4 linked regions of the Homo sapiens genome follow. The protein of the gene in region 1 purifies or fractionates together with the protein of each later gene. This does not show direct contact. Each region holds a gene or a part of one and is shown in the gene's direction. Other genes may lie near its edges. The genes, in order: XPO7, POLK, HK1 and PLOD2.

What was found.
Region 2: the proteins of XPO7 (region 1) and POLK purify together in Homo sapiens (affinity purification with mass spectrometry; 2 studies listed by BioGRID). This does not show direct contact.
Region 3: the proteins of XPO7 (region 1) and HK1 purify together in Homo sapiens (affinity purification with mass spectrometry; 2 studies listed by BioGRID and IntAct, with this or other methods). This does not show direct contact.
Region 4: the proteins of XPO7 (region 1) and PLOD2 purify together in Homo sapiens (affinity purification with mass spectrometry; 2 studies listed by BioGRID, with this or other methods). This does not show direct contact.

Annotation. Positions count from the first base shown.
Region 1 is NC_000008.11:21,992,660-21,999,690, forward strand, and holds part of XPO7 (exportin-7), read left to right. Parts: intron 1-1,703; coding exon 1,704-1,792; intron 1,793-2,832; coding exon 2,833-2,940; intron 2,941-6,095; coding exon 6,096-6,178; intron 6,179-6,431; coding exon 6,432-6,646; intron 6,647-6,876; coding exon 6,877-7,015; intron 7,016-7,031.
Region 2 is NC_000005.10:75,605,880-75,610,511, forward strand, and holds the end of POLK (DNA polymerase kappa), read left to right. Parts: 3' UTR 1-4,112; downstream 4,113-4,632. UniProt on the Homo sapiens protein: DNA polymerase specifically involved in DNA repair. Plays an important role in translesion synthesis, where the normal high-fidelity DNA polymerases cannot proceed and DNA synthesis stalls.
Region 3 is NC_000010.11:69,314,474-69,321,846, forward strand, and holds the start of HK1 (hexokinase-1), read left to right. Parts: upstream 1-4,373; 5' UTR 4,374-4,474; coding exon 4,475-4,537; intron 4,538-4,590; exon of another isoform or gene 4,591-4,704; intron 4,705-7,373. UniProt on the Homo sapiens protein: Catalyzes the phosphorylation of various hexoses, such as D-glucose, D-glucosamine, D-fructose, D-mannose and 2-deoxy-D-glucose, to hexose 6-phosphate (D-glucose 6-phosphate, D-glucosamine 6-phosphate, D-fructose 6-phosphate, D-mannose 6-phosphate and 2-deoxy-D-glucose 6-phosphate, respectively).
Region 4 is NC_000003.12:146,158,162-146,165,525, reverse strand, and holds the start of PLOD2 (procollagen-lysine,2-oxoglutarate 5-dioxygenase 2 isoform 1 precursor), read left to right. Parts: upstream 1-4,341; 5' UTR 4,342-4,536; coding exon 4,537-4,645; intron 4,646-7,364. UniProt on the Homo sapiens protein: Forms hydroxylysine residues in -Xaa-Lys-Gly- sequences in collagens. These hydroxylysines serve as sites of attachment for carbohydrate units and are essential for the stability of the intermolecular collagen cross-links.

The DNA of each region.
Region 1 (7,031 bases):
TGCCCCAGCTTCCCACGTGGCTAGGATTATAGGCACGAGACACGATGCCCAGTGAATTTCCACATATATGGAATTTTAAGTTCTTGTTTTCTAGCTCTTAGAATTGTCATTTCTTGATTGTTGCTTTCTTCATCTTTTTACTTCATACATACTGTTCTCTTGACCTGTATAGATCTGTGTCCAAATCAGAAGACACCAGGATGTTACTATTGGTAGGACTTTTTACAGTATTCCTCAGGGCACCAAGGCTGAATGGTAGAACTACCAGCTAGCCAGGGTATTGCCAGAAAAAAATGCCAGGCTTTACCTAGCATTCTAAAGCTCTCCTTTTTCATCTTTAGCCTTTTCTTTTTCCATCTACAAATCAGCAGGGTAGACAGAAAGCAACAACACTTAATGCAACCCTCTCTCCCCTAATTATACTTGTATTTTAGAGTCTGAGATAGGTACCATTCAAAGCTTGGGTTATTGTGGAACATATTACCAACTTTAGGCTAGAGTATCAACCAATATCAAGGATTTAGGGATATCAGTGAATATCAGCCCTTTTTCCCATTATATGGTATTAGTTTCATGTAAAGCAAGTAAAATTAACCAAAAGAACAACCTTGGTAATGGACTACAGCTGTCACCCACTTCTTTGTCATGTCCCATGTAAAGTCTTTTAAGAGACTGACCAAGTCTTAGACTGGAAAACTGAGCTTGTGGTATCAGCTTAGGAGAGAACTGTTTGCTTACAAGCAGACTGTTAACAGAAGTGATGTCGTTTTTGCCAAACGTGTCAAGATCCCCAAATGTACAACCTTCTTGAGCACATTTTGTTGTTGTTGTTGTTCTGTCTCCACGTTTGGAGACAACCCCCAAACTATGATTTTTATAGTAGTTTTATTGCTGTTCATGTCCCAAGTAAAAGTTTTATTGAGAGAGTGAGTATTGGATTTGGAGTCTTGGTATTATGTATGAGTCCTGATCTGGACCCTCCTGCTACCTAGCAACATGACTGGGGGAAGTTTTTTGGCCTCTTTAAGCCTCAGTCTCTTTTTCTGCAAATGGAGAGTACTGATTAAACATAGTCTTATCTAGATGGCCCACCCAAAGAGAGAGGTGCTGTGTAGACTCCCCTTTGTCTTCCTCCTGGCAGGGCCTGCATCTGACTTCCTTTAGGGTATATATGGCTCTTCTACCTCTTCTTCTTTGGGACTTCTGTTTTTCTTTTTTGCTTTTTTCTGGCTTTTTGAGTTGGTTTCTTTGCCGTGTCTCTCTCTCTCTCTCTCTCTCTCTGTCTCTCTCTCCGCCCCCCACCCTCTCTCCCCCTCCCTCCCCTCCTTTCCTCCCTGGGTGGACTCAAAGCTTTTTCACTTTTTACATGTGATGTATTACTTCAATGTCTTAAAACCTTATCAGCCTCTATTTTTGCTACGAACCAGGAACGTATTTTCTTGGCAAAACAAACTTCCAAAGCTAATTTTCTTGGCATAACAAACTTCCAAAGCTAACAAACTTCAAACTTCCAAAACAAACTTCCACTGCTAGAATGAAAATATGCCATTCTAGCATAGAAGATATTGAATCCGAATATTTGAGAAGGAGTATATGTTGAACTGTGAGAGAAAGAATTTGATGATACATGTGTGGAATCCTCATCAGATTGTTACAGTTTTGTCTTTTCTTCTATTTTAACACATTTTTGCCTTCTACTACAGCGAACTCTAGTTGGCCTAGTAAGAGACCTGAGAGGGATCGCTTTCGCTTTCAATGCCAAGACCAGCTTCATGATGCTCTTTGAATGGATGTATCCTAACTCAAACTAGGAGCACACTACAGCCTGCCTTAACTGGAGTGTGATTGGGTGATAGGGTCCAGAGACGGTGTAGGGGGAAGGGAGGGTAGTGAGGCAGAGAAGATGAAGAGTTAGCCAGAAGGCCTGCATGTGTCCTGGAAGCCACCTTATGACAGACATAAGGTTGTCTGAGATTAGAACATGAATGAAGTAGTCTCCCAGTTTCTCTTTTGGATCTCAAATATAAATGCCTGTGGAACCATATACCACTGTAGAACTGTTGGTTTTGCTATATTTAGAGAGATGTTTCAGTCTGCTGAAAAAAATAAAAAGGCCAGGCACGGTGGCTCACGCCTGTAATCCCAGCACTTAGGGAGGCCGAGGTGGGCGGATCACGAGGTCAGGAGATCGAGACCATCCTGGCTAACACGGTGAAACCCCGTCTGTACTAAAAAATACAAAAAATTAGCCAGGCGTGGTGGCGGGCGCTTGTAGTCCCAGATACTTGGGAGGCTAAGGCAGGAGAATGGCATGAACCCAGGAGGCGGAGCTTGCAGTGAGCCGAGATCGCGCCACTGCACTCCAGCCTGGGCGACAGAGCGAGACTCCATCTCAAAAAAAAATAAATAATAATAATAATAATAATAAACAGCTTTTACAAATTAGGAAGTCTAACTTTACTGACTTCATACCCTTGTGAAGATTATTTCAAATCCAGGTGCCTCTTTAATAGTTATGTAAAGGAAATGAGCTGATCCCATATAATACCATAGAAGTGATGAAAGGACAAATAACAGTATGAAATACATCATGCTCTTCAGAAGAAAGGCCCTATGTAAACTAAAATGTATTATGAGATGCCTTTCACAGGTTAAAGAACACAAAATCACTTTAGTATCTTCTGGTTAGAAAGACTCCAAGATTAGCAAGCAAGAGACAGGAACTTAAAGAACTGTAGTTTGACAAGTTTTTGCTTGGCTAGTGCTGAAAAACTATTTTAAATTCTGTACCTTTCTGGAATCAGAAATCTTTCCTTAGCTTCTCATTTACAGATATCCATCCTATATGCCAATTCTCCAACGGGCAATTGAGCTCTGGTACCATGATCCAGCCTGTACTACACCTGTACTCAAGTTGATGGCTGAATTGGTTCATAATAGGTAAGCAGGAGGCAGAGCTTGCAAGGGCACATCTGCCCTGTTATCTGAGAGAATTTGCTGTATCTAGTGCTTTGGGCAGATTGTGGGAAATAATAAGATTCACTACTGCATTTTAAAATTCGAAAAGTTTTTGTGTTTTTGTTTGTGTGAAAGAATAGTATTCCTAACTACACAAAACCATAGTCAACTGCAGGAAATAAGTCACTTTTTTTGGTTTGTTTGTCTTGTTTTTTTTGAGGCGGTGTCTTGCTGTCTCCCAGGCTGGAGTGCAGTGGCACAGTCTCGGCTCACTGCAAGCTCCATCCCCCTGGGTTCACGCCATTCCCCTGCCTCAGCCTCCGGAGTAGCTGGGACTACAGGCACCCGCCACCACACCCGGCCGATTTTTTGTATTTTTAGTAGAGACAGGGTTTCACCATGTTAGCCAGGATGGTCTCGATCTCCTGACCTCGTGATCCGCGTGCCTCGGCCTCCCAAAGTGCTGGGATTACAGGCGTGAGCCACTGCGCCCATCTAATAAGTCACTTTTAAAAAGAGTCTCCAGTGGGGCATGGTGGCTCATGCCTGTAATCCTAGCTTCTTGGGAGGCCGAAGTGGGCAGATTGCGTGAATGCAGTAGTTCTAGATCAGCCTGGGCAACATGGTGAAACCCACCTCTACAAAAAATTAGCTGGGCATGGTGGCACACAACTGTAGTCCCAGCTACTCAGGAGGCTGAGGTAGGAAGATTGCTTTAGCCTGGGAGGCAGAGGTTGCAGTGAGCCAAGATTATGCCATTACACTCCAGCCTGGGTGACAGAGCAAGACCCTGTCTCAAAAAAGTAAAATAAAAAGAATCTCCAGATGTCTACTCTTAGGAGAAGTAAATTTGGCAACCAAGATTCTGATTTCCTGCCCACAGATAAGAAATTAACATCTGGTAATGGTGCCTTGTCCATCACATTTCATGGTTAGAGACATTGAGAAGGATATGATAGATATTAGAATACCCTTTCTTAAGAAAGGTATTTATTAGAGAGGTTGTGGCAGGATCAATAAAAATTTACTTTTAAAAAGTGAGCAAGATTTTCAAAACAATTTAAGGACAGTGAAAAAGAAAAGTCTAGCACCTTAGCTTTCCTAGAATTTCAGGTATGGGCATTGGTCTCTCATGGCGGTCCTGAGAGAATTAGTAAGGTTTTTTTTCTTTATTTTTATTTTATTTATTTATTTAGTTAGTTATGTTTGATCCGGAGTTTCTCTCTTGTCGCCAGGCTGAAGTACAGTGGCGCAGTCTTGGCTCACTGCAACTTAACGCCTCCTGGGTTCAAGCGATTCTCCTGCCTCAGCCTCCCACATAGCTGGGATTACAGACATGCGCCACCACGCCCGGCTAATTTTCTATTTTTAGTAGAGACGGGGTTTCTCCGTGTTGGTCATGCTGGTCTTGAACTCCCGACTTGAGGTGATCCGCCCACTTCAGCCTCCCAGAGTGTTGGGATTGCAGGCGTGAGCCACCAGGCCTAGCAGAATTAATAAGTTTTAAAACAACCTTATGGAGTGGGTAATATTTAAAGAGGCTATAACCTCCCAGGAGACTTATATTCAAGAGTTACTCATTTATAAAATAGATACTTGAGAGCACTTACTCTTTGCCAAACTTTCCTAGCCACTATGCCAGACAAAATCTCTACCCTCTTTGATGTTACAAATGGTGGGGAAGACACACAATAAAAACAAGTATGGAAGATCTTTCCAGTGATTAAGTGCCATGAAACAAAATAAAACAAGGCAGTAAAATAGAGGGGAATTGAAGGACAGGAGGGTCAGGGAAGACCTCTCAGAGAAGGTAATATTAACTAGGATCTAAATGACAAGAAAGATTCTGGTAGCCCTGCAAAGATAAGGAGTCTTCTAAACAGAAAACATCTGCACGAGTCCTGAGATAGGACAGGCTTGCTGGGACTTGTGGCAGGAGCCTGGTTGGTGGGGGGAGGCTGTGGGAGCAGGTCAGACCAGTGAGCAGAGCCAGATCATCTAGTGCCTTCGCACAGCAGTAGTGAGGAGTGGGCATTTATTCTCATTGCTGTGGGAAGCCGCTAGAGTGTTTTCAGCAAAGGATTAAAATGATCTCATTTAAGTTTTTTAAAGGCTACCATGTGAAGAATGGGACTAAAGGCAGGTAAGAGTAGAAGCAGAGAGAATGTAAGGGAAAGGTGGATTTGGGGTTTATTTTAGAGTTAGATGTTGATGGATTCAGTGTGGTGGGGGGGAGGAAGGAGGAAGGACTCCTGGGCTTTTGAGGTCTTACCAACTTGAATCTAATAAAGCTCATCAAAATGTGGAGCAGACAAAAGAGTCAGGAACTTAAAACCAAGATGGTTACAAATGGCCTTCTCTGTCTGGCTTCTTTTGGACCATTCCAAGTCCCTATGCATCTTTTCTTCATATAAAATGGTAACAATGCTTTGGCCCCTCTCCCTCAGTTGCCACTGAAGCCATAAAGGTCCATGCCAACTAATGGCTGAAGGGCTCTGCATTAGTATCAAGAGGCGACGGGTAGAAAGTATACTTTAATCAAGGCCGGGCACGGTGGCTCACGCCTGTAATCCCAGCACTTTGGGAGGCTGAGGCGGGCGGATCACGAGGTCAGGAGATCGAGACCATCCTGGCTAACATGGTGAAATCCCATCTCCACTAAAAATACAAAAAATTAGCTGGGCGTGGTGGCGGGCACCTGTAGTCCCAGCTACTTGGGAGGCTGAAGCAGGAGAATGGTGTGAACCCGAGAGGCAGAGGTTGCAGTGAGCCGAAATTGCGCCACCGCACTCTAGCCTGGGCGACAGAGTAAGACTCCATCTCAAAAAAAAGAAAGTATACTTTAATCAAATAAAATTGAGAATTTTCAAATAGTAATTTTATCTACTGCTGCTTTTTTTTTCTTATAAATGTTTTTAATTTGAGCAGCAGAATCTGAATCTAGCATGTTGGTCTTCAATATAGAAGCTACTTCATGGTTAAATATCTATAACTTGGTTATTCTCATATTAGGATAGGCAATTGCTTACCTTAATGTAAATGCAGGATCACCCAAGGTACTCAGATGAGAGCCTCAAGTACCCCAGTCTTCCAAGAAAACACCTCTGACTTTTTCTCCTCCTGTGCTCTCTGCTCAGGTCCCAGCGACTCCAGTTTGATGTCTCTTCCCCCAATGGCATCTTACTCTTCCGAGAAACCAGCAAGATGATAACAATGTATGGTAAGTGCTTCAGATAATCATGCCTCTAGAAGTTAATTCCAGCTCAGTCACCACACTGTAAGCAGCATGTGGGTCTCTGGCCAGTCCTGGCAGGAGCCAGGACAGCATTCGTATTGTATGCTAATACATGTGCATTAGAGTGCCACCTGTCACCAGGGGCCTACTGGAATTTGTATGCCTTTGGAGTAGGAAGGCTGATCTAAACGAGCGCTTCTAATGTGGTTGAATAAACATATATGACATGTCTACTCAGGCAATCGCATCCTGACACTAGGAGAGGTCCCAAAGGATCAGGTCTATGCTCTGAAGCTCAAGGGCATCTCCATCTGCTTCTCCATGCTGAAGGCTGCTCTCAGTGGGAGTTACGTCAATTTCGGAGTCTTTCGTCTCTATGGAGACGATGCCCTGGACAATGCTCTGCAGACCTTCATCAAGCTGCTCCTCTCTATTCCTCACAGTGATCTCTTGGTAAGCCTTACGCTGCATTGCCACAATCTTGTTCCTCATCACATTCAGCCTTTTTCACCTGAGACCAAGATTGAACACTGCTCTTGAGAAACTATGTAAGCTAGCTCCTTTTGCTCTAACTAAGTCTTCTGTTTTCCCACCTAAAAGGAGCTAAGCTATTTAAGATCGTCTCCCTGCATGCTGGAGTGCATAGTGCCTAAGCTGATTTTCTTCCTCTTCCTCTCCCACAGGATTACCCCAAGCTCAGCCAGTCTTATTATTCACTACTGGAAGTCCTGACCCAGGACCATATGAACTTTATTGCAAGCCTGGAACCTCACGTCATCATGTATATTCTCTCTTCCATTTCTGAAGGACTTACTGCACTTGGTAAGCACCTGAGGTG
Region 2 (4,632 bases), on another chromosome or scaffold:
TGGGACGAGAGATTTGGAAAAGAAAAAGACACAGAGACAAAGTATAGAGAAAGAAATAAGGGGAACCGGGGAACCAGCGTTCAGCATATGGAGGATCCCGCCAGCCTCTGAGTTCCCTTAGTATTTATTGATCATCTGTGGGTGTTTCTCAAAGAGGGGGATGTGTCAGGGTCACAAGACAATTGTGGGGAGAGGGTCAGCAGACAAACACGTGAACAAAGGTCTTGGCATCATAGACAATGTAAAGGATTAAGTGCTGTGCTTTTAGATATGCATACACATAAACATCTCAGTGCTTTACAAAGCAGTATTGCTGCCCGCAGGTCCCACCTCCAGCCCTAAGGCGGTTTTTCCCTATCTCAGTAGATGGAGCATACAATCGGGTTTTATACCGAGACATTCCATTGCCCAGGGACAGGCAGGAGACAGATGCCTTCCTCTTGTCTCAACTGCAAGAGGCATTCCTTCCTCTTTTACTAATCCTCCTCAGCACAGACCCTTTACGGGTGTCGGGCTGGGGGACGGTCAGGTCTTTCCCTTCCCACGAGGCCATATTTCAGACTATCACATGGGGAGAAACCTTGGACAATACCTGGCTTTCCTAGGCAGAGGTCCCTGCGGCCTTCCGCAGTTTTTGTGTCCCTGGGTACTTGAGATTAGGGAGTGGTGATGACTCTTAAGGAGCATGCTGCCTTCAAGCATCTGTTTAACAAAGCACATCCTGCACCGCCCTTAATCCATTCAACTCTGAGTTGACACAGCACATGTTTCAGAGAGCACGGGGTTGGGGGTAAGGTCACAGAATCTCAAGGCAGAAGAATTTTTCTTAGTACATAACAAAATGGAGTCTCCTATGTCTACTTCTTTCTACACAGACACAGTAACAATCTGATCTCTCTTGCTTTTCCCCACAGCAAAGCAATTTGCATGCTCAGCCTTGGCACTGGTTGGAAGGAGGGACTGCCAGTGAGAATTTGAACCATAAACCAGTACACATGTAGGCTTGTAATCTGAATTCACACAAATGGTATCATCCTAAAGAGCTCAAGCAGAAAATGTAATTAAAGTGAGGTTAGTATTGCCCCTAGTGACTGGCAGAAGCATATGCAAATCCTCTATGGAAGAACTCAACTTCAATTCAGGCAGACAACTTAGTATCTCAATTAAAAAGATGTGATAATGTGAAAAATAGGTGTTACAGAATTGATGACTACAATGTATCTCCCATCCTTGAAGCTCACACCCTCCCAGCTAGGGGTAGCCATGTGACTGAGTTTTGACTAATGGGATATAAAAGGAAGTACTGGCCGGGTGCGGTGTCTCACGCCTGTAATCTCAGCACTTTGGGAGGCCAAGGCGGGTGGATCACCTGAGGTCAGGAGTTCGAGACCAGCCTGGCCAAGATGGTGAAACCCCGTCTCTACTCAAAATACAAAAAAGTAGCTGGGCGTGGTGGCACACACTTGTGATCCCAGCTACTCAGGAGGCTGAGGCAAGAGAATCGCTTGAACCCGGGAGACGGAGGTTGCAGTGAGCTGAGATTGCACCACTGCACTCCAACCTGGGTGACAAAGCGAGACCTTGTCTCAAAAAAAAAAAAAAAAAAAGGAAGTACTGTGTGTGGTTGCTTCTGGGAACCTTCCTTTCTTGCAGCTGTAGCATTCTGTTTGCCTCTTCTTTCTATTTCTCTGTTCCATCCTGCTGCCTGGAAGCAGATGCTGCCGTTTACACCTGAACATAAGGGTTGCACAGGGGGATGGTAGAGTAGTGGGCTGCAGGGGCTGATTCTTGGGGCTTTGTAAAACAGAGACATATCAGCACTGGCCTGCACACTTTGAGACTTTCACAAGAAACAAATTAAAAAATTGTTTAAGCCATAGTTACTTGGGTTTTCCTATTAATTATAGCTGAATCCTAGCTGATAAAGGACATAAAGATTATTAAGACATGTTTGTCCTCAAAAAATGGAGAGCCACCCCAGGGACAGTTTCTATTCAATGTAGGGAGGGCTATAATAGATGAATATACAAAGTGGGAGTCTAGGGAGAAATCGTCTGGTAGAGGAGGGCAAAGAGAAATCTAGGAAGATGTTTTTAAAAATATGGAATCCTTGAACAGGACCTGGTTTTAAAGGTTTACTTCAGAATTGAACATATTTTTTTAGTCTAGACCTTTAGGGGAAAAACTTAAAGCTTTCAGGACTCAAAGACAAGTTACTGTTCCCATGGCTAAATTGCATTCCATATTTATTTGACAAATACTTATTGCAGGTCGGGTACTGTTTTAGCCACTGGAGATGCAGTAAGAAACTTAATTAATTTTTTTTTTTTTTGAGACAGAGTCTTGCTCTGTCACCCAGGTTGGAATGCAGTGACATGATAACAGCTTGCTGCAGCCTTGACCTCCGTGGCTCAGGCCATACTCCCATCTCAGCTTCCCAAGTAGCTAAGACTACAGGTCTGCCCCACCACCACCAGCTAATTTTTAAATTTTTTGTGGAGACTGGAGTCTCACTAAGTTGCCCAGGTTGGCCTCAAACTCCTGGCCTCAAGCCATCCTCCCACTTCGGCCTCTCAAATTGCTGGGATTATAGGCATGAGACACCACGCCTGGCCCAACAAAGTTTTAAAAATCACTGTATTTATGAAGTTTACATTCTAGTTGTGGAAACCGACACTAAACAAATAGACATTTCAGTGGTAAGTGTTACAAAGGAAAGAGACAACAGCATAAGGGAATGGAACATGAAGGTAGGGGACACTTTTAGAATAAGATGATCCGAGAAGGCTCCTCTGAGGAAGTGACATTTAACCTGAAACCTTAATGATACGAAGGATCAAAACTATTTTAAAAATTCGGAAGTGGAGGTGGGGGAGAGAAGTTCTAGGCAAAGGGAGGAAATAGAAGCTGATGGCTCTCCACCAGGAAACAGTGGATGAAGAATGGAGAAGAATTGTAGGGCCCAAGATCAGAGAGATGAGTAGGGCCAGATCATGTGGGCAAGCTTTTATGTATTAGCACGCTTAGAATTAATATTCTGCTTGAGAACTAACCTGATATTTGAAACAGAGTGAAAAAGAAAATACCTCCCACAGTATACTTCATAGCTTCTTATTTAGCCCAAGCTGTCAGGGAAATAAAGTCCAGCTATGGCTAAGTTTCACATAATGCACTGCTTTGGAGTTTTTGTCTCATCTGTTAGAGTAAGATAAGTACCACATACTATTATAAGGCTATATAGCATAAAATGATGATGCATTTTCTCCTGTCATTGATAAGAGGATTTTTTTAAAAGTAAATTTCTTGGTTTAGAATTTGAAAGCAGTTTCAAACTTGGATAACACAATTCAGATCTTTTTTTAAAATTATTTTTTATTTATATTAAAAAAAAATTTTTTTTTTGAGATAGGGTCTGGCTCTATCACGCAGACTGGCACACAGTGGCACAATCTTGGCTCATTGCAACCTCTGCCTCCCAGGCTGAAGCCATCCTCCCACCTCAGCCTCCCAAGTAGCTGGGACTACAGGCATGCACCACCATGCCTGGCTAATTTTTGTAGAGAGGGGGTCTCACTTTGTTACCCAGACTGGGAGATTTTTCTGTACTTGGCTGTATGCTTTCCATTGATCTGCTGCTGTTTTCACTATTATTCCTTCTTTTGTGTGGGTATTTTCTTTTGATTTTTAGAATTTTACTTGTAAACATGCTACATATACATATAATTTGGTGCCCTGTTTTTCCATTTACATATTATACTTTCCATATTAGTACATTGTCTGATATTTCTGCATAATACTCAATTCAACTTACCTGCTATTGTTTTTATCATATCTCTATTACAAACATTAGGCCCATTTCCCTTTTTTAAAAGAGGAAAGTTTGAGGTTATGGGCGGTGTTCTGATAAAATAAATAATATTTTGTCATGTTTGTTTTTTCATTGATTAGGAAACATTGTTTTGAATTTAATGCCTCAAATTTGGTGCACAATAATTTGAAGGGAAAAACTGACAAGTTTGAAATGAACATTGATATTACATAATTTACATTAAAATGATACATCTTTTGTAAATTTGTAAGAAGAATAAATAAATGAAAACCTGATTACCTTTCTTATTTGAAGTTTATTTGGGGGGTCAGAATTTGACTTGCTTCTGTATTATTTCACTTTTCAAAAGAATCCGCCAGGAAAGATTAAAATTCATGGTCTTCAAATGAGAAATCAAGTCTTACTTTATTCAAAAGAAAATGTTGGAAGCCCATTTAGAAATGATTTAATATTGAAGTTCCTATAGTGTTAGTTATAAATTCAACCTTGACATTTCTCAAAATTATACAAAGAAGTGGTAGAGTAGAGCTGGGAGTTCATTGGGGCTTGTAGATTTTGCAGGAATTTTTTTTTTTAATGTGTTAAAACAAATTTTATTTACAATAACAGGCAGCAGCGGGATTTGGCCTGGGGATGGAGCAAAGTGACCCCCTGCTGTAGAGCAAGGTGAGTGAGTCACGCCCTTGACAACACATTCTTAGAAGTCATGCTCGTTAGGGGCAAGTTCTGTTTCTTCCACCAACGTCTTCAAGCCTCAGAATCCTTTTCTATCAAACGGGGCTAATAATAGAATACACCATACC
Region 3 (7,373 bases), on another chromosome or scaffold:
ACAGTCCCATAGTGTCAGGGTTCTAAGATGCTCCAATGGTTTAGGCACTGGTCTTAATTTTCGTTTTTTCGCTCTCTTTGAGACCTTAACAAACTCTATAGGGCTGGGCACAATGGCTCACGTCTATAATCCCAGCATTTTTTTCTTTTTTTCTTTTTCTTCTTTCCTTTTCTTTTCTCTTCTCTTCTCTCTTTTCTTTTCTTTCTTTTTTTCTGAGACTGTCTCACTCTGTCGCCCAGGCTGGAGTGCAGTGGCACAATCTTGGCTCACCACAACCTCCACCTCCCAGGTTCAAGCGATTCTCTTGCCTAAGCCTCCCAAGTAGCTGGGACTACAGGCTCTTGCCACTATGCCCAGCTAATTTTTGTATTTTTAGTAGAGACAGGGTTTCACTATGTTGGCCAGGCTGGTCTCGAACTCCTGACCACGTGATCCTCCCACCTCAGCCTCCCAAAGTGCTGGGATTACAGGCGTGAGCCACTGCGCCTGGCCAATTCCAGCAGTTTTAGAGGTCAAGGCAAGAGGATCCCTTGAGTCCAGGAGTTCGAGACCAGCCTGGGCAACATGGCAAGACCTCATTTCAATTTAAGAAAAAAACCAAAACACCCAAGCTCTATAACCTTCACATCCTCATTGACTGATTAAGTGCAGATAATGATATTTGCCCTTCTAACCTCACCAGGCTGTTATCAGGAGAAATGAAGCAATAAATGAGAAATTGCTCTGCAAACTGTCAACGTTATGTAAACATTGCTATTCAGAGTGTGCTCCCAGGTGCGGGAGGTACAGCTGTTATCTGTTGGAGATCACTCCTGAAGTAACATTCCTAGTGCCATGGGTCAGATGGGAATTGGTACAGACATTCCAACTTAGAAGGCAGCCTTTATTGTCTTATAAGCAGGTGCGTTTCCTGGGGTGGCAGCCTGGCACTGGTCACTCCAACCCCAACTTGTGTAGGAGGTACCACAGTAAATGAGTAGAGAGAGTTCAGGGGACTTGAAGGGAAGTGGAGGGCCATCTGGAGAGGGAGGGAACTAAGGACTCCCTGTGGGTTGGGGTCTTCCTGAGGATCCAGGGAGTAACTGTCAAGGAGCCTTAGCAGGGATCTAAGAGCTATGCAAGAGCAAAAAGAGGCAAATTATTAAGGAAATTAGTGAAGTCAGCACTGGAACAACAGAGAGGGGACACAGCAGTGCAGCATGGGCCCTGGCCTCAGGAAGCTGTCTGATTGGGGCAGATAGGACCAGCCCCCTAGAAGACAGTCACCCATATCAGTTAGGCAGTCATGACTCAGTGTTACTTATCTGAGGCCCAGGTTGCATGAGGGGTTGGGGGTGGGATGGACAGAGCACTGGCTGGGCATCAGGACTAGGCTGGAGTCCTGGCTCAAAACTCTACCACAACCTGACACTGGGCAAGATGGCCCACCTGTGGCATCCCAGGTTCCTGCCCTGTAAAGAGGAGTCTGGGTGTATATCCAGATGGACTGTGAGCACAGCCTGAGTTTGCCCTGTCGAGGTGCTGAGGCCTGGGAGATTGGGGTGAGTAGCTGTGGTCCAGGGAAGGTTGGCAAGCTGGGCCTTAGATGAGAGGGGATGCTTGGTCAGGCAGAGGTGAGTGGAGAAGGCAGGGCAAGGAAGGGAATATGAGCGGCGAACAAATGGAGTGGACATGGTGGGGGCAGAGGATGGTGGGAAGTGGCCTTGTTGCGGCCAGAGTGGAGGAAGAGATAAGTGGGAAAGAGTGGAGTCGATTACAGAAGGCCTCGGAAACCAGGCAGAGATGTTTAAATTGGCTCTCTCAGGAAGGAGAGGGCCATGAAGGGATTTAGGGAAGGGTCATGACATGATTATGCTGCATTTTAGCAGGATTAATGTGACCTGGTGCTCAGAATGACTTGGATGGCATGAGGCCAGGAGCCGAGGAGGACAGTTAGAAGACTCTTGTAATATTTCTGGCACAGGGAGATGGACTGGGAGTTGGGAGGTGGCAATAGGTCAGGCCTAGAGACATTTCTCAGGAAATATTGACAGGCCTTGGGGCCTGGTTGCATTCATGGAGTGGGGAGGAATGAGTCACCTTGAGAAGCAGTTTCCCTCTCAAAGGCCAGGGAAGACAAAGCAGAGGCAGCTTTCCTGCCTGCAAACAGGACATTTCAGGGTAACCTGGCTCTTCCAAGCGTCAGCTTCTCCCTGGCTCCAGCTCAGATAGGAGTTGTAACAACGGGTTGGGCATGGGTGATGGCACCGGCTGGTGGCTGGGTTAAGGGCCATGTTTTTGATTATGCATTAGGCTTATTCAGCCTGCCAAGTGCCAGGCCCTGCGCTTGTGTAGGAGACAGAGCAATTAGCAAAACATAGTCCTCCATCCTCAAGGAGTTTCCAGCCCTGTGAGCTTGGCAGATCTGCAGAACTCAAATGAAATGGCAGTTGAGAACAACCATCTTGTTCTCATTCACTCCATTTTGCTTAACGGCCATGTAGGTAGTTCCAAATGTTTGATGTGTACCAGAAAATCTCTCTCTTCCTGGTTTATAATTATGATCCAGGGCAAATCCAGGTTTTGTTGGGCTTGAAAATTAAATAAATTGGCACTCTCTATGGAAAATAATTCAAATATAAATATACAAATATCACACTGCTAGGCCCTCCCAGGGCCTAGAAGGGTAGGAATGAAAGTGAGAGTCCCTGAAGCTTTAACCGCATTAACTTTTCAGTCAGTTCTATGATACCTGCCATTCCTTAAGTGTGTATTATGTGCACGTATTTTGCGTACAGTATTACACAACAATCAAGGGGAGGTGAGGTGGGCATTAGTGTCTTCATCTTATGGATGAAGACACAGTCTCAGAGGTGATTCAAGATGCCCCTCTGCATAGGCCCTAAGGCAGGGGGTGGGGACTGTGACCTGGACAGGAAGCTGGGGCCTCAGGACTGCATCTAAGCTCCTCCTTTTCTGTGGGTGATGGTGGCTGTCAGGCCCCTGAACCTACGTCATCCCTCCCTCTGATTTGACTGTACCTTTGCTAGGCCTGGTCAAGGGCTAGGGACTCCTAAAGTCAAGAGCTAGGGTAGAGGTTGGGGGTTGGATCTCAGGGCACCATATGGTGCAGACTTGGTTGCAGGAAAGTGACCTATTTAGGCAGAGGGGCTCTATACAACTGGGACCACAGCAAACCCTAGAGGTGAGCACCTGCTTCAAAGACTCACAGATCCAAGCTGTGATCCTAGATCTACAACTTCCTGGCTGTATAAAGTCCAGCAAGACTGAGGCCTCACTGAGCTTCAATTTCCTTACCTGTCTAACCAGAATAGCAACAACTTGTTTGTATATTTGAGCTCATTACATGTCATTTTGTAAGGCACTAAAGCTCCTGGAGGCTTCCGGAACACAGAAATAATTAATCTAAGAATCCTAAAGTGGCTGTCCTGGTAGCACCTCTAGGGAGTCCTCCCATCCTACGTAACTTCCTCTGGGAAAGTAGAAAACACGGCACCTGGGAAGGGGCGCTGAACCGTGCCCCAAGTCCCAGTGGGCCTGGATGCCCAAGAGCAAGAGGAGGCCCAGAGGATGGGGACAGGCCACGACCTGTGGCCCAAGTCCCGCCCAGAGGGAGTGCGCCCTGAGGGAGAGCCACCGGAGCTGGTGACTCGGGGGCGGGTGCTCTGGGGTGTCGCTTTGGGTTCAGCAATACAAATCTGCCAGCTGGAGATTAGGCGGGGCACGCCGGGGAGAGGTGATGCACTGCCGCTGAAGACCCAGGTAGGCCGGTGCGTTCGGCCTGGGTGAGGAAGGCGCGGGACCCGGGTGCGAGGACTGCGTAGCGTCCCCGGCTCCCGCTTCCGCCCGCTTTCCACGCCCACTTCTGCAAGTCCCCTCCGGCACCTCGGCGTCCACCGGACTCCTAGGGGCGAGCCCTCATTTCCGAGGAATGGGACCGCCTTCGTGCCCCCGGGGCTGCCAGTCCCTAGACTAGCCCTAGGGGCTTCTCGTCCCGGCGGAGCCGGGCGGTGCCTCCTGCCTGCGCCTCGCACCTCCCCGCCTGGCACGGCCCACCCGGGCACGGCGCCGCCACGCGTGAAGGCCCGCATCGGCTCCCTACGTGGGGGACGTGCAGGATGATGCGGGGTCGGGGGGGATTTCGCTGCGTCGCCCGCCCCCTTTCCGGCGCAGGAGGGAGCGGCCGCCGCGTCCCCGCTCCCCGGCCGGGACGCCACCGCCGGGCGTTGCAGAGGCGCGCCGCAACCAATGGGCGTGGAGGAGGTGGGTCGGCTGGCGGCTGTCACCCTCCAGGGGACGGGAGCGCGGAGACCGGGAGCGCGCGAGCTGTCGCCGCGCCCCGGGCCGAGGGGGAGGAGCCGGGGGAGGAGGAGGAGGAGGAGCCGCCGAGCAGCCGCCGGAGGACCACGGCTCGCCAGGGCTGCGGAGGACCGACCGTCCCCACGCCTGCCGCCCCGCGACCCCGACCGCCAGCATGATCGCCGCGCAGCTCCTGGCCTATTACTTCACGGAGCTGAAGGATGACCAGGTCAAAAAGGTGAGCCCCCGCCCGCGCCGCCGCTGGTCCTGGCCGCAGCCTTGCGTTCCGGCATCCGCTCGCCGCCTCCGCTGCCTCCATCCTCCGGCGCCCGGCCTTCTCCGGGCCAGCATCGAGTTGGACTGCAGGGCGCAAGGAAAGCCTTCGCCTTCGATTCTACCGGCATTGTCAGTGTCTCTGTGTGTGTGCGTTTTTGGGAGGGGGGCAATCGGGCGGAAGACCCCCGAGACCGGGCTGCCTGCTGCAGTGTCCTTGAAACGGGCCCTGGATGTCAGATAGGCCCCCGGGCTGTGCGGGGAGGTGGCCGGTGGGCCCTTCCGCAGGGCCTGTTCGGGAGGGTCCGAGCGCCGTGGGAGGAGGTGTGATCATGGAGATGCTGGGGAGGTGATCGAGCAGCAGGCGGGGGTGCTGGCTGGAGGCCAGGCCTCCCATATTTGGGGTTCCTGGCGGAGGGTGTCGGGTGCCCCGGAGAAGCTGTCGCCGGGCTCTCCCAGTTGTTTGAGCTGCTCGTTAATCTGAGGACGAGGTGACCCGCCCGGCTTCCCGGAACGGGGAGGGGCGGCGAGGCCACCGGAAACTTTGCTCATAGGCCTCGTGTCTGGAGCGGCACGTCTGAATGGAATTTTTTATTCCTCTTAAGCTGTAATTTCTAGCCAGCACAGGAGCTCAAATAAGCGACTGGTCATTTGAGTTGGGTGGACGCCTGTGGCATGCTTGTTCTAGCACTTGGACGCATGCATCCTCCTGTCCTGAGGTGTTGTTGCCTTTGACATCTTAGTGTAAAATACTGTCCGCTGGCAGGTCTTAAAGGTGTATTTGTCTCTTCTGCCAGCTGTGCTACCATATTTTAAAGAAACAGCCTAAGCTGTAGGGAAAGACGCCCGTTTTATCAGTGCCAGGTCTGGTACAGGCTCCAGGCCCACCCACCCTGAACGTGGTGACGTTATTGCTGGGGTTAGCTGGGATGGACTGGCAAAGTCATCTTGACTTTGGCGTTCAGACAGGTGGAGTTCTACAGGTGAAAGGCAGGAGTGACAGGCCTTGATTTTCTGCCCGGCAAGCCATAGGGTGTTCCATCCTCTTCCTGTGCATCTAAGATGACTCCCTCATCTGGCACCATAGGAAACAGGCCTACTGAGGGCAGCGACCTTATCAAGGTCACCCAGTGAGTTAGAGGCAGAGCCAGTCAGGGGGATCCAGGTCTCCCAGTGCCTCCACCCAGGAACTTCACCAGGGTCCTCCTGGAGGTCAGCTTCCAGGAGGGAGTGGGTACTGAGAGACAAAGCCGCTGGGGACCCTGCCGTGATCTTGGATCCCATGGTGGGTGGGGACCGGGAGTGAGGTAGGTAGGAGATAGGCTTGGGAATGCCATCTGCCATTGCTCTTTATGGCTTTAAGCACTCTGGGGTTGTCAAACCGTGGCACTCGAAACACTTGCTCCTATGGAGCACCCTGGAGCTTCCCTCTGGCCACTGACCTGGGAGCTGTGCGTGCGGGTGTGTGCATTTCATGAGTTTTCTCTAGTGGTGTTGTGCATCACTGATGTTCTTCCCATTGGACCAGGGAGACAGTTCTCCCGGCATGGCAAGAAGTGCCCAGAACAGGCCTCCTGAAGCCAAGAGTTCACTGTCCTCCTGCACGTGGTGTCCTTTATAGCTCAAGACAGTGGGCTGCTGGGCTGGGGGGTGCCTGGGTGACCTTGTAAACCTCCAGTGTCCACACCCACCACCACCCACAACAGACTGCTGGCTGTTGGCTGCCGGTGGCCTCCAGCAGCTGAGCTGGGCTGAGGTTTGGACTCCATTCAGTGGGACATGTTTTCTCAGACATACAGTGTCTAGGGTGGGCCCAGAGCTCTCCACTCCTGTGGGTGGCTCAATTCACATCTATGGATGCACAGTCTATCTCCTAGGCCCCCGTAGGTACCTGAGTGTGTGATTCAGTTGACCCTTCCATCCCTCCTCACTCCGAGTTTGGGATTCTGATGTTCTTCCCTTCTCTTCCCCGAGAACCTTGCTGGAGGAAGGTCTTAAGGCCAAGGTTTCCACCAGATATTATTTGTCAAGGAGATTCTTAAAAACAAGATGTTTGCTTGCATTTCACCACGGACTTCCTATGCTGCTTTCTATAGGGGAGTACGTGGATTCCTGCCAGGGGGTCCACTCATTTTGCATAGTGGACTGTGTGGCACAGCCATCTGTGGGTGTGGTCCTGGCTATGATTGCGCCACCGCACTCCAGCCTGGGCCTTCTAAGGACAGTGACATAGTGGGTACTTGCTCCAGTGACCTACTCAGTTTTGCCCAAGTGTGCAGATGCTGGGGACCACATCTGCTCTTCTGGGGCCCAGGATTTCTTAGAGACCAGCTCTTTCCACGTACCACTCACCATAGGAAAGGCTAGGTGAAGGTGCGGGACCCCCTGTTCTTCCTGTGGGGCTGGACTCTGCCTGCCTCCCAGCAGGGACCTGCTGAGGATGGTTCCCCCCCAGCGTGGGCAGCCATGATGATTCAGCCCTCCAGCTGTAGGCAGCCTCCGGGGCTCTGGAGACAGACCTGGCATCCCTCAGTAACTCTCATCTATCTTCTTGCCCTCAGAGCCAGAGGTAGGAGAAGGGAAGCTGGGGACCATGCCGGGGAAGTTTTTGGGATTGCTTAGAATCCAAACGTGATCATGAAAATGGTGTCATTTCTTTCTTCATTGCCTATGAGGCACATCAATAATTCAACTCCATAAAAATATATCCTGGGTTGAAACAGTTCAGGTGTCTGACTTCCCAGCTTGGAACCCCATTATCCAGACGGCATCTGCATAAATTGGTTAATGGGTGCTGTTGA
Region 4 (7,364 bases), on another chromosome or scaffold:
ACGCCCACATTCAGACATCAAATTTTGTTGACTCTACATTCAAATCTATCTGGAAATTGACCTTCATTTACTGCTACTGACTTGCTTAAAGCCTCCGTCATCTCTCTCCTGGACCACTGCATTAGCTTTCAAGTTGGTCTACAGGTCTACAGACTTTCTGTTTTATTTCTCCACTCACTCTCCCTTATCTTCCTCTAATGTGGCAGCTGTGGACTCTGTGATCCTTTTTAAATCCTACTTCAGATCATGTCACTGCTCTGCTTAGAACCATCCAAATGGCTTTTCAATTCATCCAGGGTAAAGGACAAAGCTGTTACTAGGTTCTACCCTTATCACACTGTCTGTTTATCTGCTTGCCTCCGCCCTGCTTGTTACCTTCTCAGGCTTCATCTCCTACTATTCTTATGCACAGTCACTGAACATTCAATTGCCCTCTTGCTTCCTCACAACACTCCAGGTATTTCTGGTCTCACAGTCCTTGCACTTCCTGTTTCTTCTGCCTGGAACACAGGTCCCCTGTACATCCTGGCCCCCTCTTTTTCTCACCACTTTCAGGTCTTTGCTCAAGAATCGTCTTCTCAGTGGGGCTTTCCCAGGATCCCTTACTAAGGTTTTGGTATACCTCCCCTCCTTATTGGTCCTTCCCAGTTACCTTTCCTGATTTACTTTCTCTCTACCACTTATTACCTTATATGTTTATCTCTGTTTCACCTGAAACTAAAGCACAGTAGATTTTTGTTTTTTCTGTCACTAATAAATTTGTTTTTACCAATATCTATCTAGAACAATGCCTGAGATATAGTAGTCATGGAATATTTTTTGAATGAATCAATGAATAAACAAATGTGCTACTATGGTACTTACTCTTTGATGATGAAAAATAATTGAATCCTGACCTTAACAGACACACTGTCTAATAATAATTCTAAGAAAAGACCCTGTCACAAATGAGAGAGGTTTGCTTCAGAAGTTAGAAATCATGGAACAGGGACATCTAAACCCATCCTGAGGTAGGGTAAGTTACCCCAGTTGGGCTTCCTGTAGGAGGTGGCACTTGAGCTTGACAGACATTAGCCCAATGAAGGAAGGAGGACAGGTTTTGTCATCCTTTTTTTTTTTAGATATAGGGATAACATGAACAAAGGTATGGTTGCTGAGCAAATGCTGCTTCTCTCATTTCTCCTCAAATTTCCTTACCATTTCTGAGCATGTCACCCTGACTTCTTATGATCAAGAGTTACATCATCAGAGTGGCTGCTACCATAGCAGGTTGGGAATGCCTGGGAATTAATGAGTGTCCCTCAGCCCTTAAGTCAATGACTGATAGGTGTTGGGAATATATATCCCAGTTCTCTGACCCATTGACCAGGATATTTTTGAGTGATATATAGTACATCAATTTTGTGGGATTAAGCTCCCATTACCCACTGTGGTTGATTTAATTGGATATTTTCCCTTTCCTGTGTCATTTTAGCTTCACCTATCTGGTTTTCTCAAAACTCTCCACAAACCGCTAGTCACTGAATTTGGGCTCATGCTTGGGCTTCAGAGGAACCCAAATGATTCCTACCTAAACTTTAGAGAATTAAAGTGACAAAGTATTTGGTCTGCTTTAGGAGATAATAAAGCAAACTACGTTGGTTGGGTTTAGTTTGGCATGAAGGAATCTGAATACTAGGTTAGGGAATGTGGATTGTTTCCAAATCTGTTATGAAATCTGTTTGGGGATGAAGCAATCAAAAGGATATCTGAGTATGATTAATCTAGTTGTGGTATATAGTGGTATTACACTGGTGGTAGGGAAAGTCTACAGGAAATGGCATAGGATACACTCAAGAGTGCATTAGTTAGTGAGGTAGCAGTGAGAATGGAAAGGAATAGATGAAGAGAGAACATGAAGGGAAAAAATGACAAGATTTGGAGTCCGGCTCTGTGAGTTGGCGGGTGTGGGGGATGGAAAGAGAGAAGTAAAAATGTCTGAGGCCATATGAGTTAGAGAGCAGTAGTATCAACAGAGATGAGGGAGCCGAGTGGGATCTGGATTTGATGAGTTAAAAGACATATCAGGCCGGGCTTGGTGGCTCACGCCTGTAATCCCAACACTTTGGGAGGCCGAGGCGGGCGGATCACGAGGTCAGGAGATCGAGACCATCCTGGCTAACACGGTGAAACCCCGTTTCGACTAAAAATACAAAAAAAAAAAAAAAAAATTAGCCGGGCCTGGTGGCGAGCGCCTGTAGTCCCAGCTACTCAGGAGGCTGAGGCAGGAGAATGGTGTGAACCCGGGAGGCGGAGGGAGCTTGCAGTGAGGGGATATCGCACCACCGCACTCTAGCCTAGGCAAAAGAGCGAGACTGTCTCAAAAAAAAAAAAAAAAGACATATCGAGTTTTTGCCAATGGAACATCCAAGTAGAAATGTTCAGCAGATGGCTGGAAATGTAAGAAAGCAGGAAGGATTTGGTTTGAGAATTGGGGCTCTTTCAGACTGTTAGAAATGTCTAGGTATTTGAAAATCCCAACACTTGCTTTATACGAGTCTCACAGCACAGATGTTGTGACTCTTAACAGAGAAGGAAGAATGTCAAAATAACCTGAAATTATTAGTGGACTTTTGGAGTTTAAACACACACACACACCTGTGATGCAGAGAAGCCGGTAAGCATTCATGAGGGGAACGGGGGTTTGGGAGGGCAGGAAGCCAGGTTGTAGCTCTCCAAGTTCTTAAAGATACTGGAGAACCAAGGAAGCAAGAAGTCAAGTTCAAGGAGTTTGGCAATTGCAGGTTTGGCTTTCTGGAGACAGATCTGGCCAAAACACCAGCCATTCCTAGCAGAGTCCTTGGACTCAGAGGACTGATGCTGTTTGCTTTGTGCCTAGTTTTATGAAGCTGTACTTGCCACACATGAAAGGCTGTTATTAAGGAATCCATCTTTTAGCTTTTTTTTTCCCCTTCAGACTAAATAAACCTTATTTCATTCTTCTCACAGGTCATAGTTTCCACTTCTTTAATTATTTGTTACTCTTCTCAGAACTTTCTCCAGTTTTCCTCTTCTTTTAAAAAACTGAGACCAAACCTTCAAAACAGAGTAATAACTGGCTTAGTTCTGGGCACAGGAAATGATTCTTTCTAAAATGTCACATCCCAGGCAAGATTTCTTTGCAGGGTTTTCCACCTGTTTTTAATGCTATCAAGATGAAAGCATTAAGTTCATGTTATCTTGATATGTTAATTTTAGACAAAACGTGATCATAATGGAACACATTTTTCCATAATTTTCTGTCTTAATTTCAAAGGCCCAGAGTTATAACGGGTGTTGTCTCGATTCTGTTTTTTTCTAATTTCACGAAAATTTAGGCAGGAGATTCCAGAATGGTAGCAGTTTGGTTCTCTTTCTCCTATAAAATAGCTTATGTCATTAAATGTATGAGGCAAAACTGTCAAGCTTTTTTCTTAATTGTGCTTTTGCTCCCACTCATTCCAACAAGTTAAACCCTTGGCTAGTTAAAATGTGAGAACAGAAAAAAGGGAATTTTCTTAGACATCAGTCAAAAGTGGAAGCAGTGGGGGCCAAGGCTCAGAGATCTCGACCTCTCCGACCACGTCTTTGGGAGTAATTTTCCATGCGGACTGGAGCACGATCTTGTAAGCACAGCCCCGGCATTACACACGTTGGGCTCCGATTCCGCAGGATTTACAAGCCTCATTACTGGAAAGAGTCTAAGGCTCTCTTGGCACAAGCGGCGGAGCAAGAAATGTTCACTGGACAATAAAACTTTCGGTTTACGGAGTAAAATAAAATCACGGCCTTCCTTTTACAGGGTGATGAACCTGCCCCTGAATTAATGAGGGGCGATCCATTTCCATGGCTTAAGAGTCTGGCGAGGTCCCAGTCAGCCAAGATTGCCGCAGATTTGCAGTCACTTCAGACTGGGTGGAGTATCCAAGTCCATAGAAGAGCAAATTCTCACCCTTCGAGGCTGCTGTGGAAGCTACCGGGGCTGGGACAGCAGAGAGGAACCCAGACGGGAACACCGCCCTCCCGCCAGACTCCCGGCGGCTCCTCCTCCCTCTCCCAAACCCACTCCCAAAGCTAAGTGCAGGCTTCCCCGTTCCAGCCAGAAGCGCTGCGTGAGCCTCCACACGTAGCCGCAGGCAGCTCCTTAAATAGCGTCCGCGCTGAGCAAACAGTCCAGACGTGGGGCCCAGGAGGGCGAGCTGAGGCGACCGCACCGGGCGCGCAGCGGCGGCGGGTCAGCCGGCGGCCAATAGCCAGGGCGCGGCCCGCCCCGTCGCCTCCCCTCGGGGAGCCTATAAGGCCTCCGCAGCGCCCCGGGCGCCTGCTGCTCCGTGCCTCCACCGACGACCTCACTCAGCTGCGTTACGCGCCGCTCCGGCTGCCGGCCGCGCGCCTTGCCCGCCGGCTCCCGCCCGCAATCGGCGGCTCAGGGCGGACCCGGGTCTCTGCGTTCTCGCGAGAAGCGCGGCGCTGCGGGGCCGTGGGCGCCTGAGCCCGCGCGGCCCTCGAGGGCCGAATATGGGGGGATGCACGGTGAAGCCTCAGCTGCTGCTCCTGGCGCTCGTCCTCCACCCCTGGAATCCCTGTCTGGGTGCGGACTCGGAGAAGCCCTCGAGCATCCCCACAGGTGAGCACCCCGCGGTCCGCCGCTGTCCCGCGAGGCTCGGCCGGCGGGGGGGCAGTTCATTCATCCACCAGCCCTTCCGCGGGGCTGGCCAGGTGAGTAGTGGGGGCCTGTCCCTCCTCTCCAGGACCGCCGGGGTCTTCCCCAGAATTGCGGTCGGGCGGCGCTGGTCCCTGGGGAAGTGTAGGGGCACCCGCCCTCGTTGACTCCTTGGAGTTCTCGGTGAACTCAGCGTGCCCGAATTTCCCTGCAGAACAAGTTGGAGTTTCCTTTTGGACTTGCAGGTCATGGGCACCAACACCTTTCCTGCAGCTCTCCTTTCCCCTCCTTTCCGAGAGTTGGCATGGATTTATCCTTGATGGACGAGGCAGTACTCCTTCTGTGACCTAAACACGGGGCTTAGTGTACTTTCTAATTGATGGTGACACATTCCTTCCAGCACCCCAGGAAGCAGCCGGTAACACCTCCCTCTTGCCAAAAACAACGCTCGCTCGAAAACCTTAGTTGTTTTCAGTAAGGCTGCCTGGCTACCCAGTACCTCCAGGCGGCAGCTTTCTTCCTTTGGGATCTGAAGGGGAAGCTGTGGACACACAGCTGCTCCCCTTACCTACCCTTTTCTTGAGCCCGGTGCTGTCTCTCGTTTTCAGAAGCTGTGTAAAACAAAACGTTTTATATTTAGCCAGATTAAAGAGAGTTTCACCACGTCTGTCTAAACATGCTTTGCTGCCTTTTGTGGCACATGAAAAATCCTTGGAGTTTTCCACATTTGTGCTCTTTGTGCTCAACTCTCTGAAATTAGATCTTGCATTTAAATGACCTTCTAATGTCCTTTTTGTTTTGTTTTGTTTTTTGTTAAGTCATCTTGGCACCATTTTTTCCCCCAAGTTTATAATAGAGTGCTTTTCTACTTGAACTTTTCTTAAGCCTAAGGACAGAAATTTCTATTTCAGAGTTACATTCAGAAAGTGACATTTGGTTTGCAGTCCAGCTAATCCATGTAGCGATAGTTTTGTCTTCATCTTTAAGTGTTTCAGAAAGCGTCAGCAGGCTGAACTGCCTATCTTTCTACAAAACAGTGCTTGCTTTGTTAGCTTGAGAAACTTCAGCATTCAGATGGATTTCTATCAGTTACAGGATGCTTTTCTTTCTGTTAGGTATATGTGACCATTTAAAAATGGATTTCTGAACCCGTGTGATTCCTCTAAATTTGAACTAAACTTTTGCATAATTTAAAAATATTTCTTCTAACATAATATCTGGAAAGTAGAAAGTAAATACTTTCAGCAAATTTGGAAGTAGAGAAATTTAAAAAGGAAAAACAGAACAAAAAGCCTTCCCCAGAAAAATGTCTTTCTTTGTTGAAACACCCAAGGAGACTTTAACTGGGAAATAAAATAACCTCTAAGGACTTTGTAATATTTAGAGAGGCCTCTTTGGCCTTTGTATATTTTATTCCACTTCATTGCCAACACCCCTAACTTTTTAATAGAGGACATCCCTTTGTATCTGCCTTTATATTTATAGTCAAAATCAAATTCCCTTCTCACTCTGGATTTTAAATTTCATGGAACTGGACAGTAAACTTTTAATGGATTGTGATATCAGAGAAAGAGAATTTTAGGTATGAAAGTTTCCTCAGGAAACGACCACATGAAACCCACTGTTTAAATCTGAGGACTGGTCACTTGGTAAGCAGGCATGGAGAATTCGGTTAGGGTCGAAATGTGGGAAAATACTAATTTGTGATAGGTGAAGCCAGCAGTAGTCAGTTTGATTACAAATTTCGGTGTAGGTAGGTGTTCTCATAGGTTATGTGATAAACTAATAAATGTAGAGGTAAACTGCTTGATAAAGTGGGCAGAATCATGGACTGTGGTCTATTTTATTCTTTACAAGTTTCAACTGAAAATTACTAAATAGAAGCTTATTCGTTGACATAAATATCAAGATCTTCTATAGGACCCTAAATTGTCTAGCTTAATAGTTCTTTAAGAAGAGTGCTTATCATCTCTAACCCTGTATATTTGTCAACATGTCCCAGCTAACCAAGAAGAAATGGTTTAAATCACAATTTCTTGGCCCTATTGACATTTTGAGCCAGACACTTCTTTGCTTTGAGGGACTATCCTGTGCATTGATGTTTAGCAGTATCCTTAACCTCTGTGCACTAGATGCCAGTAGTATAACCTTTCTAATCTGAGCACCAAAAAAACAAAAAAGGCCTAATGTCCCCAGAGGGACAAAATTGCCCAGGGTTAAGAATCCCTGGATTAGACTAATCTATTTGTATTTGAGGCAATATGGCATTATAGTGTTACTGGAATGATAACAGCAAATTATTTTTGAAAACAAATATTTATAGTGATTTTCAGTTTACCCACTGTAGTTGGGAATGTGATACACATTCATCAATTTTTGGAGTGTAGTTTTTCCTAGCTCTGGTGCTTTGTTGACCAGAGTTGAGAACATAGATTTTTGTTAAATTTTTGAGAGTTCTGTGTGCTGTATTGATTCCTTTTGGTTGCCACTTTATTCTTAGCATGGAAAGACTAAATAAGATTTTGGCTAAAATAATCATTTTCTCTGAAAATAACGTATAGGAATTGTTACCTGAAAATTATATCCTTATGGGAGCTTTCAGAGGCAGAACCTTCTTAATCAGTGCCAGTAAATCAGGTTCATACCCTGATTTATCTTTCCTGCCCTTTCTGCCTTCTAGATG